Linked DNA regions of Homo sapiens: regions 1 and 2 are each linked to region 3. Evidence: fine-mapped expression QTL. A gene starts in region 3. Each other region holds a variant in brackets. All regions are shown on one strand. Distances are from middle to middle.

Region 1 (4,174 bases), 22 kb after region 3:
TCTGTTCTGGGAAAAGAGAGAAGCAAGACAGATGTGGGCCTTGCCCTGTGGGGCCAGGGCACGGGCAGGAATCCCACTTGGGGTTAAGACGCTGCAGTCACCCCCCTCCGGGTTCTGTGCACTGGCCCCTCCAGGTGCTGGGGTCCTCTGTGGCCGTGGCGTTCTAGGAGAGATGGGCAGGGAGACGCTGGCGCCCTGTTGTGTAGCTTGTCCTTGTGTCTGCTTCACAGGCTCTTCCACTGTGCAATTTCCTAAAATTTTGGCGAGGCCCATTTATCCATTTTAATTTTATTCTATGGATTGTGCTTTGGTGTTGAGTGTCAGAGCTCTGCCTCATCCAGATCCTGAAGATTTCTTTTTTAAAATAATTCTGTGTTTTACATGTAAGTTCATGATACAGTTTGAGTTAAATTTTATATGAGATGTGAGGTTTCGGTCAAAAAAAAATTTTTTTTTAACTAAGTGTGTCCAGCTGCTCCGGCTCCAGCTGTAGCAAAGACAAGACTGCCCCTCCTCCACTGAAGCACCTTTGTGACTTTTTTGTGACTTTTCTGTATCGATTAATAGGATCATATGTTGTTTATTCTTTAGCCTGTTGATATAGCAGATTACATTGATTGATTTTCAAATACCAAGCTAGCCTCGTACACCTAAACTAAGTCCCACTTGGTCACGGCATAATATTCTCTGTTAGAAAGTGGCCTGGACACGTCTGTGGGTCTCTTTCGAGTTCCTCTGTTCTGTTCCGCTGGTCTCCACATCTCCCCTCCAGCGCTGCCCCAGCCATGTCTGTCTGATGTAGGAGCTGTATAACGCTGTGCTGTAGCTGTACAGTTCTCAACATCAGGAAGGGCAATTCCCCTACTCTTCTTTTTTGGAATGGCTTTCCATATACATTTTAGAATAATCTTGTGTCTCTCTACCAAAAAAAAAAAAAAAAAAAAGATGCTGGCCAGGCATGGTGGCTCACACCGGTAATCCCAACACTTGGGGAAGCCAAGGCAAAAGGATCGCTTGAGCCCAGGAGTTGGAGACCAGCCTGGGCAACACAGGGAGACCCCATCTCTATGAAAAAAACACAGCCATGAGTGGTGGTGCGCACCTGTAGTTACAGCTACTTGGCACGTTGAGGCAGGAAGATTGCTTGAGGCTGCAGTGAGCCAAGACCACACCACTGCACTCCAGCCTGGGTGACAGAATAAGACCCTCTTTCCAAAAAAAAAAAAAAAAAAAAAAAAAAAAAATATATATATATATATATATATATATATATATGCTGAGGTTTAGACAGCAATTACCTTAAAACCAAAGATCAATTTTGGAAAAATTGATTTACTATAAGTCTTCCAGTTCATAAACATTGTATCTATTTATACAAACATTCTTTTGATTCCTTTCATCAGTATTTCCTAACTTTCTGCAAACAGACACTATACAAGTTTTTGTTAGATTTATACCCAAGTATTTAAGATGTTCTGTAAATTATATTGCCTTTTAATTTTGTTTTTCACTTGTTTGCCATTGCTTTATAGAAATGTGGTTAATTTTTGTATGTTCATCTTATTTCCTGCAACCTTCGTGAACTCACTTAGTGTTCGAGGAGTTTTCTGCAGATTGCTCAGGATTTTCTACATGGGCTGTCACGTCATTCTAGGAGTTTTCTGCAGATTGCTTAGGGTTTTCCACGTGGGCCGTCAC[G/A]TCATTCTAGGAGTTTTCTGCAGATTGCTTAGGGTTTTCCACGTGGGCCATCATGTCATTTGCGAGTAGGGACAGTTCTGTTCTTTTCCAATCCCTATGCTGCTGCTTTCCTTTTCTTACCTGCATGCCCTGGCGTGAGGAGCTCCCATGCTGGGTTGAGGATGAGTGGGGAAAGCCAGCTCTCCGCTGACCGAATGAGGGAAGGCGGCCAGACTCCTCCGTGAAGCAGCGTGAGCTGAGGGTTCTTCATGGTGCTTTTTACCAAGTCGGAGGACTTTCCCTTGATTCCTGCTTTGCAAGAGTTCTTGTCAGGAATGGAGATTAAATTTTGTCAAATGCTTTGCCTGTGTCAATAGGATCATATCATTGTTTTCCTTTAGCCTGTTGATAGGGTGAATAACATTGATTGATTTTCAAATTTGAACTAGCCTTCGTTGTACACCTAAACTGAATCCCACTTGGTCAGGGTGTGATACTCTTTTTCGTAGATTGCTGGATTCCATTTGTTAGTACTTGTTGAGTATTTTTGCATCTAAGTTCATGAGAGACTGATACTTATTTTTCTGTGTGTGCGCACCATCCTTGTTGGTTTCAGTACAAGGTTAATAGTGGAAAGGTGTTTCCCTGTCTTTTGTTAACTGAAAAAGGATTGTGTAAAATTGGTATTAATTCATATTTAATGTTCGGTAAAACTTTCTAGTGAAACCATCTGGGACTGGAGATTTTGAGTAGCATTTTAATTACAACAAACTCGATTTATTTAATGGTTATAGGACTACCGAGGCTATTTTATCTTGGCACGTTTTGGTAGTATGTGGTTTTCGACGAATCCGTCCAGTTCGTTATGAGCATCAAGTTTTGTTGTAGTATTTTTTATTGTTATTTTAATAGCTTCTGGATCTATTATAATATTTCCATTTCATTTCTGATATTGGTCATTTCACTCTCCCCCCTTTCTTTTTTTTGAGATGAAGTCTTGCTGTGTTGCTCAGGCTGGAGTACAGTGGCATGATCTCGGCTCACTGCAAGCTCTGCCTCCTGGGTTCATGCCATTCTCCTGCCTCAGCCTCCCAAGGAGCTGGGACTACAGGCACCCACCACCACACCCAGCTAATTTTTTGTATTTTTAGTAGAGATGGGGTTTCACTGTGTTAGCCAGGATGGTCTCGATCTCCTGACCTCGTGATGCCCTGCCTTGGCCTCCCAAAGTGCTGGGATTACAGGCGTTCCCCCTTTTTAATCTTTGTCAGTTTTGCGAGGGGTTTATCAATTTATTGTTGCTGGTCTTTTTAACAAATTTTTGAGACAGGGTTTCACTCTGTTGCCCAGGCTGGAGTGCAGTGGTGTGATCATAGCTCACTACAGCCTCAAACTCCTAGGCCCACGTGATCCCACATACCTGGGGCTACAGGTATATGCCACCACACCTGGCTGATTGATTATAGAGATGGGGTCTCACTGTGTTGTCCAGGCTGGTCTCAAACTCCAGGGCTCAAGTGATCCTCTCACCTTGGCCTCCCAAAGTGCAAAGATTACAGGTGTGAGCCCCTGCTCCTGGCCGGCCTTATTGCTATTTTTTAAAGAACCAGTTTTTGGTTTTAATAACTGTCTTTTGTTTTCCTATTCATTCCTACTTTTATTATTTCCTCCTCCTGCTTCGGGCTTGTTTCTCCCTGCGTTTCTTGAAGTAGGAATTTAGAGAAGCAATTTGAGATCTTTCTCCTTTCCTGATACTGGCATTGAGTGCTGTCTGTTTCCCTCTAAGCACTGCCTTGGGTGCGTCTGGCAAATTTCATTATGCTGTATTCTTGTTTCCATTCTGTTCTCTTTTTTATTTCCTTCGAGGCATCCCATTTGACTCGTGGATTACTTAGAAGTGTGCTGTTTGATTTCCAGGCACTTACAGTTTTCCTGTTGTCCTTCTCTGACTGGTTTCTGGTTTTGATGTCCACTGGTGTGGCCTCCACCTCTTCACACCACCCCACAGATGAACAGCATTCACATAACTTCCCAGTATCTCGAAGTAGCATCGTTTCCATTTCCTGCGTGTCTTCTCATTTTACTGCATTATTTCAGCTTTGCTTGTTTGAGCCAGGATTCAGGGCTTCCTTCATTCCATCTCTAGCTTCCTCCCCTTGAGTTTCCCCGTTCATGGAGTTTCTCTTGGACCCTCAGCAGCAGGGGGTCTTGTTCTTGACAGGAATCCCTCACACTTCCCCCTTGGCCTCCGAGCCCCACCACATCCTGCAGTTGGTGGTGTGTGGAGAGAGGCGCTGTCTCTGCTCTCCAAGCACTTTGTCAGCCTCCACCCCTCCCTCACTCCGTGCCTCTTGTCCGTGCCCGCTGGGACACCATGGGGCTCGGCTCGGGATGGTGGGACCAGCGCTTAGTAAGACCCCTCAGCCCTAGGCACCGTGTGAGCACTGCTCACGTGGCAGAGCTGGAATGGGGGCCGGGCACACACTCCCTGGCCCAC
Region 2 (4,174 bases), 88 kb after region 3:
CGGCTTCCAGCGGGATTAACTGCACCATCTGGAGGCCACGCGTCCACCTGGGTGGGTTAGGAACCCCAACCCTTCGGTGTAAACGGCAGGGGGAGACTCAGTGGATGGCAGATCGGCTGGGGGCTGCCGGGTTGACTGTGGGGACCATGTGGGGCCCACCTGGCTTTCCTGAAGCCCCCATCTACCCCTGAGGATGTCTCCCACTGAGGGGGCTGGATCTCCACCAGACTCAGAAGATTCCACAATGGCTGGATCCAAGGGTTCAAATACAAAGGGAGGGCTGTGGCCTGAGCCACCAAAAAGTACAGGAGGTGAGCAGGAAGAGCGGGGGAACAACAGAGACAGGAGCAGCAGCTGGACACTCGCTCTCAGGGGTGTGTGATGGAGACTGCACCACCTTCCAGCTGTGTGTCCCCAGCATGTGGCTTCACTTCTCTGAGGCTCTGTCCCTTCATCTGTGAAACTGGGATCTAGTCTTTACCTCACTTGGTTGCTTTGAGGGTCGAATTAGATAAGGCAATGTACAGGCCTCGGTGGAGTGCCTGGCACTGAGTAAGTTCACAGTCAGTGGTGGTTGTGATTATTATCCCCATTTGCAAGATGGGAAGACTGAGGCTCAAAGCAGCTCAGGGACTTGTGTCGGATTACACAGTTGGTTGGTGACAGAACCCATGGCCTCTGCTTCTCCTGACCCCAGTCCAGTGCTCTTTTCCTGGAGGCTTGACCAAAGATGAACCTGTCCTGGGACACAGCCAGCCCCGGAGTGTCAGAGACCCAAGGTGGCCATCTTGGGTCACACCAGCTCCAATGACAGATTCCATGTTCTAGCACCTACTGTGCACCAGATGCCATGCCACGAGCTTCTGTGCACCACCGCCAGGAGCCATCACCATCTGTGACAGGGGCACTGCGCTGTCCCCGTCGTCCAGATGCACAAGCAGTGGTTTTGGCAGAGCCAGGATCCACTGCCAGGCCTCTCTGGTCCTGGAGTCCCCATTCTCAGCACAGGCTGCTGCCCGCTGGGCCAAGATGGGGCTTCTCTACACTGCAGCAACAGCTCCCAGGCGCCCTCCCACCAAGTGTTCATCTTCTCCTTCAAGGAGAGATGGCAATACAACACCCAGACTGCCACTGTGGACCCTAAGTCTTTCTTTTTTTTGAGATGGAGTTTCACTCTTGTTGCCGAGGTTGGAGTTTCACTCTTGTTGCCGAGGTTGGAGTGCAATGGCGTGATCTCGGCTCACTGCAACCTCCGCCTCCCAGGTTCAAGCGATTCTCCTGCCTCAGCCTCCCGAGTAGCTGGGACTATAGGTGCCCGCCACCCCGCAACCCGGCTAAGTTTTCGTATTTTTTAGTAGAGACGGGGTTTCACCGTGTTAGCCAGGATGGTCTCGATATCCTGACCTCGTGATCTGCCCTCCTCGGCCTCCCAAAGTGCTGGGATTACAGGCTTGAGCCACCACACCCGGCCCATGGACCCTAAGTCTTCTGGACACCAGACAAGCTTCCCCTACAGGGCGGGGTTCCTTTCTCACATCTAGAAAGAAGGAGGGAGTAGGAAAGAAGAAACATCAGCCCCAGCCCCTCCCTCCCTTCAGCCAGCACAGGGC[C/T]GCAGTGGGGGCCCAGGCTGGTAGGCAATGATGGCAGGGAGGTAGTTTGAAGCAGGGGGGTCCCCTTTCCCCGCACACCCTCCCTACATTCCCATCTGGTCAGCCTGCTCGCTGAAAGTTGAAGTCTGCCTTGTACAAAAAAACAAAAACCTCCCTTTCCAGTGTAGAAAGCCCCAGAGACCCGAGCCACTCTGCTTGCCTTCTCTCTTGGCCCTTATGGCCAGGACAGGGGCCGGGGAAATGACAGCTGCCCTGTGCAGGGGAGAGAAATCGTATTCTTTGGCTTGGCTCCTCTCTGGGGCCATACCCCAGGAGCAGCCCACGGAGCCGGTCCCCACTGACTCCCACCAGCCACTGCCGGGAGTAGGGCCAGATGGGGCGGCTCCGGATCCCGCCTCGCTCGGCAGGCCAGGCCCGGAGACCTGTCCCCCTGGTACCTCCCGGCCTGGCCATCCGAGATGACCCTTGCCCCTTCCCCACAGCCCAGACCTCTGATCCTTATTAAAAACAAACAAAATCTAGAGAAAAAAATTATCCACAAACAGCCTGAGAGATGATCGCGCGTCCCCGGCGCACGCAGACACGCACACATACACACACGCACACCCACGCGAGGTCGCCTCCACTTAAACATGCTGCTGGAGGGCGGGTTTTGTTTATGGAACATCCACGTTTCTCTCAACTTTGGGAGGGGTGAGGACTGTTTCAGAGTTTTCTGCTAGATGGGGGAGCCTGGGGCGGCAAGGATGTCTTTTCTGCTTTGTGCTCTTTGCCGGTTCAATGGGGGAGTGAGATACGTGGACAGAAGGACCAGGAAACCCAGGAAGGGGGCCCCAGGGCAGCACCCCCACCCCCAGGGGAGGTCAGGCTCCGGGAGGGCAGCCCCGGGGCCTGGGAAGCCTGGACTGCGCCTGAGCTCCGGAGGATAGGGCTGGTGGCCCGCGTCCCCTCGGCGACCCCGCGCTGAGCCCAGGGTCTGTAGTTCCGAAAACGTCTGGGACCGCTGGGCCGGGATCCCTACCCCCTCCTCTCCCAGCCTTCAACGCCTGGAAACCAACGAACCCGCCCGGAACAAAGGCAGGCCGGCTTTCCAAAGGCAAACAAAGAACAGTTTGTCTTTTCCCTCCCCCCACCACCACCCGAGCAGGCGGCGGGAATAGGCCTAGGGGTCCGGATGGCCCCGGCGCGGCGCGGCGCCAGGGCACTCCCACGGCGCCCCCCAAGGTCCCGCTGCGAATGCGCAGGTCGGGGCGCCGGAGGCCGCGGCAGACAGCGCGGCGCCACTCCGGCCCGGTCTCCGTGGCAACGGGCTGGTGGGAGGGGCCGGGCGGTGCGGGCGCCTTGGCCGCTGTTCCTCGCGGGCACGTCGCTATGGCAACGATGTTACTCTCTGCGGCCGCTTTCCGGCTCCGCTAGCTCGCCTGACCCTGGCCGCTCGAGCCCCCTCGTCTCTCACTTGCTGTGTTTTCCCCTCTTTTCCCGGGCGTCCTCCGCCTGTATCCTGGGCCCCCCAAGCAGCGAGCCCCGGTGCCCCCCACCCTTACCCCTCCTCCCCGGTGCCCAGGGCCCGGGAGGGAGATTGATGGGGTGTGCTTATTAAAAAACATTGTAACCGCCGGGCGCGGTGGCTCACGCCTGTCATCCCAGCACTCTGGGAGGCCGAGGCGGGTGGATTACAAGGTCAGGAAATCCAGACCATCCTGGCTAACACAGTGAAACCCGGCCTCTACTAAAAATACAAAAATTAGCCGGGCATGGTGGCGGGCGCCTGTAGTCCCAGCTACTCGGGAGGCTGAGGCAGGAGAATGGTGTGAACCCTGGAGGCAGAGCTTGCAGTGAGCCGAGATCGCGCCACTGCACTCCAGCCTGGGCGACAGAGTGAGACTCCATCTCAAAAAAAAAAAAGAAAAAACAAAAAACAAAAAAAAGAAAAAGAAACATTGTAACCGTTTCTGTTTCTATTACGTTGACAAGGGAGCGTTATTTACTGTTACTGTTTGCCCAGCAGGCTGTGCCGGGCGCGGGGGTCTCCCCCGGGAGCTCACCTTCAGGCCGCGGAGGGCGGGGGCCGGGCTGGGGCGCGGGCAGGGGGCGTCGGGCGACCGTGCACCCCGGGGCCCTGCTCCTCGCCCCTTCCCCCACCAGCCCGGCCGGGCCCCGCGGCTGGGTGCGTTGCCGCGGGGAGGGACCTGCAGAGGACCAGTGACTCTCCCGTTGTAGGAGAAAGGCAACAAAAAATAAAAACGGCACAGATGACTTCATTCTCGGGAAGGCTCGGTCCTACATGGACCAATTTCCTGGGGACCGTGGTGGAACAGCTTCGCTGCCGTTGGAAGCACTTAAAACTGAACCAGATAAAGACCAGGACATTCTGGGCCCTGCTGAACCAAGCCAGGGCAGGCTGCGGGGCGTGTGATTTCTGGCCAGGTGGGGAGGCGGGTGGCCTCCCTCCACCCTCAAAGGCGCCTGGCTTTCAGTGTCCCAGGATTCGGGGGCTTGTGGGGAGGTCTCCACTGGGATCAGATGGGCCTGAAGGACGCCCCCCACCCTCAAGCCCCTGCTGG
Region 3 (4,174 bases):
TTTTGGGGTCAGCTTGATCCTTTCAAGAACTGTTTTCACACTCTCTTGGGGCTTGTATGGATTTGCTTTTATTCCAGGGCTAGTTTAACTCTGCTACTAAGACATGACCCTTCTGAGGTTCCTAGCAGATGACCTGGGTGCTCAGCAAGAACACTTGCTCTGGCTGGTCGGCATGTGCCTGTCCCCGGTCCTGCGTGACCTCTGGAGTTGTTCCCTGACAGCTCCCCGATGTGCTTGGTTCAGCCTTGTGGAGTTGCATGCTGTGTGCGTAGAGTGTATTACTCAGCAGCTCAGCGAGACCTTTCTCCAGGTTGCCAGAAGCCTTCTGTGCACAGCTCCGCCCTCCACAGATCCTCCCTTCCTCTCAGCAGGACCATCATGCTGAGCTTGAGCTGTACCCCACGGCGCCAAGCCTGGAAGAGACCACTGGGTAGAGCAAGGGGTGTTCAGAGGTTCACTTCATTTGTTTCTCTGTCTTTAGACAGCCCAGTGTCTGTGAACAGTTACTGTGTGTATTTTGTTCATTTTTCTAGTTGTTTACAACATGAAGGCAGACCTGGTCTCAGTTGCCCAGCATGACGTCCCAGATCCACATGTGAGGAGGAGCAGCAGCATGGGGGTTCCGCTGCGAGCTCAGGGCAGGGGTCTGTATTCCAGGAACTTGGGTGGGCTTCATAGACCCCTGTCGTTCCCAGAATTATAGGCAGCACGGAGTGTGCTTGTGCACACTTTCCTGGGTGGAGAGGCACACGGCACCTCACGCATTGAAGCGTTGTGGCCCCTCGGGGAGTTAAGACCCAGTGGGAGGAGGACCAGGGCGGGGGGCCTGGAGATGGAACCGCACCTTCCCATGCTGCCTCGCTAATTCTACAAATACTGTTGACATCCTGTGCGTGTGGCCTTGGGCAGAGGGGTAAAGACCGGGCAGCCCTGGCAGGGGCTCTGGGGCCAAGGATGTCACCTTCTGGGGGTAAGAGCGAGATGTCCTTCCAGAGCCTGGGTTTTGAGAGGAGGTCACCCTGGCCTGGTTAGGATGAGTTGTCATCTTTTAGCTTTTGGTTTGGTTTCTGTTTGTGTTTATTTTCACTTTTTGCCATGGAAAGTTTTAAGCATATATATAAAAATATGGAAAACAGCATCGAGAAGTCCCTGTGAGCCCATCCCACCCTCTTCCCCCTTCCTGGATTATTCTGAAGCAAATCCAAGGTATCGTAATCAATTTAGCTGCAATCATTCAAGTATTGTAGCATGTGTCTCTGAAAGGCTGGTGACTCCATAAAGCCCTAACCAGAGTCCTTTTATTGTGGTAGGACCTGGTCTCGGTGGGTGAGGACAGTGGGGAAAGGGGCAGCGTCCAGCAGGGTGACCACCTGTGCGAAGGAGAAGAGAGACAAAGCACCTGGTGTTGGACCAGACAGGGGGCTCAGGACCTTGGGCTGCAGTTGACCACGTGAGGCCCTTAGCCTCCAGAGAAGGAGCTGGTTTAACATGACCCATGGTTGTGGAGACCTTGCTTCCTAGGTGGGGCTGCCGTGCCCCTACCATCCTCCCACATAAGCACGTTACAGAGATCTGTGGAGCCAAGGGGCTAGTTCACCAAAATAAGACCTGGCCGTGTCCACCACTCTGCTGGTCTGGCTGGGGCTGCCGTCACAGAGCCCCACAGCGGGGGCTGAGACCGCAGATGTGTGTCTCACACAGTTCTGGAGGCTGAAATCTGAGATCAAGGGTCACCGGAGTTGGCCCCTGGGGAGGACTCTCCTCCCGGCTTGTGGACGGCCGCCCCTTGTATTCCTGTGTGGCCTTTCTCCTGTGCACTTGGAGAGCTCTGGTGCCCCTGCTGGATCAGGACCCACCCTTATGACCTTCATCAGACTTGACTTCCCTCCTTAAAGGTCCTATTTCCAAATACAGTCACATGGGGATTAGGTTAGTATCTAAATTTGGGGGACACAGTTCAGACTGTAACAGTTGCTCTGCACAGCCCCGCTCGGTTACATCATAGATGTTTGCACACATCTGTGCACGTGAACTACGTGTTATCTGTTGCACATGCAGCGTTACTAAACAGGGTTCCCTTATACCTCCCGGGGTTCTCGGAGTGGCGTCTTCTCTTTTGCTGGGAACCTTGCCGCCTTTCCTCTCCCTGCCCCTCCCAGCCCGTGGGCCACCTGCTCTCTTCCACGCCTTCCTTTCTCCTCTGCTTGTGCAGCGGAAGGTTCTGCCAGCAGGGGAGTTAGTGAGCAGCCAGTGGAGGGTGTGCCCAGCCTTCCTGCTGCAGACCCGCCCCCAAGTCAACACGGACTTCCCTCCCTGCGCGCCAGAACTTTGCGTTGTTCTTAGTGGCATCTGGGGTCGAGGAGGGCGACTGTCAGCCAGTTGGGGGATGTTTTCTTCTTGGTCTCTCGGCTTCTGCTTCCCTGTGAGCTGGGCAGCCTCAGCCCAGGTCCTATCCGGTACTCAGCTGGCCTCGGTGTGCACAGCGCAGGCTTGAGTGCAGCCGTGGGGGCGGGCGGGGCAGAAGCAGGGCCCCTGGGAACAGCTGAGTCTGAAGGGTCAGAAGCCACGGCCCCTGTGGGGGGCTCTGGGGCAGCCAGGGGAGCTGCTCGTTAGTCGTCTCTGGGGCAGAAGGAAGGGACCTTCACCTGGGTTGGGACTGGGCCTGGGTCCCCAGTCTCACAGGGAGCTCGTCCTGATTGTACCTGCCCGGCTGTGACGGCTGAGCCCGGGCTCCTGGAGGCAAGGCCACCTCAGGCCTCCAGGGCCGGAGCCGCAAGGAGCTGCTGGGTTTCCACAGGGCCACGGGGGCTGCGGCCACACGGAGCGGGAGCACAGGTGGGAAGGGTGTCTGTGAAAAATGAAATCTGTTGCCGCTTCCTCTAGCTTAATTACTGGCATGGTGGTTGCAGAGTTGAAATGCAGCTTTAAAAGCCTTTGTGAGTAATTAGTGTCAAACACACAAGATCTACAAAGCCATAAACTCACAGCTTGGTGATATTACCAAGTACTAATTAAGAAAGAAAAAAGAAAATTCCCTTTCATGATCAAATTTTGAGCCCTGCCAAAGATGAAAAACAAGGCAATTTGCAGCCGATGGCGACGCCGGAGGGTAAGTGGCGTCCACAGGAAGATGGCGGCCGAGCGCGGCGAGCAGGCAGGGTCTGGTTGAGGGCTGGGGTGGTGACGGCGTGATTGTGCCTGGCTACCGGGTTCTCAGCCAGGCAGCACCTGATTCCCAGGAGAGATGGAATCCCAGCTCAGAAAGGGGAGACTCATGCGAGGGCAGAGGCAAGGCACCCGCCCAGAAGGATTGGGGGTCTCCCCATTTCACAGGTGGGGACACTGAAGCTGAGCTCACAGCCAGGAGAGGGACAGCAGAGTGACGGCCGAGACCATCTGCACTGCGAGGGAAGCAGCGCCCACCTTCCTTGGTGGTCCGGGAAGGCCGGACCGGCCCCTTGGGTCCCCACTGGCCTCAGCCACTGTGGGCTCGTCCAGCTTCAGGTAGGCGCCCGGCCACTCACCTGGGAGGCTCTGAGAACGACAGCTTCTGTCTCGTGAGTGACGTGGTGCCCGCTTTCATCCTGGGGCCCACAGCTGCCAGGAGAGGCCAGGCCGAGGTCAGGAGGCTCAGCAGCTGGTTCCATGACTTCCTCTTCGCTGAGGAGGTCAGGACAGAAGCTTCTAGATGACAGGCCGCCCAACTTGGTATAAAACAGCAAATTTCTGTGCCTGTGCTGTCGGGCTGTGAATGACTTCTCGTCTGTTTCATGAGATGCAGCTTCAGCCCAGGGAGCCATCAGATGCAGCCGGGCGAGACGCGGAGCCAAGAGCTGTCCTCGCCCCCCATGTGAGTGACTGGAGAGACGAAATTCTCAAAGTCTTGTCACTTACGGGGATATTTTTAACCCAGGACCAGGGAAGCACAGCTCTCATTGGTGGCCGAGTGCTCTGGCGCTTGGGCAGTGGGCAGCAGCCAGGTTATCGGGACGTGCTCAGGCCCAACAGGACCCCCAGAGCCGCACCTGCCCCCCACAGAGTAGAGCCGGCCCGGGAGCGGCCTTGGTCACATCTAATCCCACCAGCCGCCGACAGTGGAGAGCTGTGCCTGGCCCAGAGATGTGGGCATCACATCCAGGCTGCAAACACACGGGGACCACCTGGCCCCGCCAGG

The links. PIP is the estimated chance that this variant, and not a neighbour inherited with it, causes the effect.
Region 1: its variant is the best candidate, but not a certain one, in a credible set for the expression of LINC01659 in sun-exposed skin (GTEx, PIP 0.65).
Region 2: its variant is the best candidate, but not a certain one, in a credible set for the expression of LINC01659 in ileum (GTEx, PIP 0.54).

What each region holds. Positions count from the first base shown.
Region 1 is chr22:23,452,865-23,457,038 of GRCh38, forward strand. No RefSeq gene overlaps it. Among named protein-coding and RNA genes, the nearest start is that of LINC01659, 21 kb to the left of the region's middle. The variant G/A (reference allele first, on the strand shown) is at 1,699.
Region 2 is chr22:23,519,056-23,523,229 of GRCh38, forward strand. No RefSeq gene overlaps it. Among named protein-coding and RNA genes, the nearest start is that of LINC02557, 7.8 kb to the left of the region's middle. RefSeq lists a silencer at 2,727-3,086 and enhancers at 3,432-3,998, 3,999-4,174. The variant C/T (reference allele first, on the strand shown) is at 1,611.
Region 3 is chr22:23,431,227-23,435,400 of GRCh38, forward strand. It overlaps LINC01659 (long intergenic non-protein coding RNA 1659), which reads left to right and starts at 2,338. Exons shown (of 3, transcript NR_110538.1): 1 at 2,338-2,835; 2 at 3,334-3,504; 3 at 3,598-3,845. RefSeq lists an enhancer at 14-859.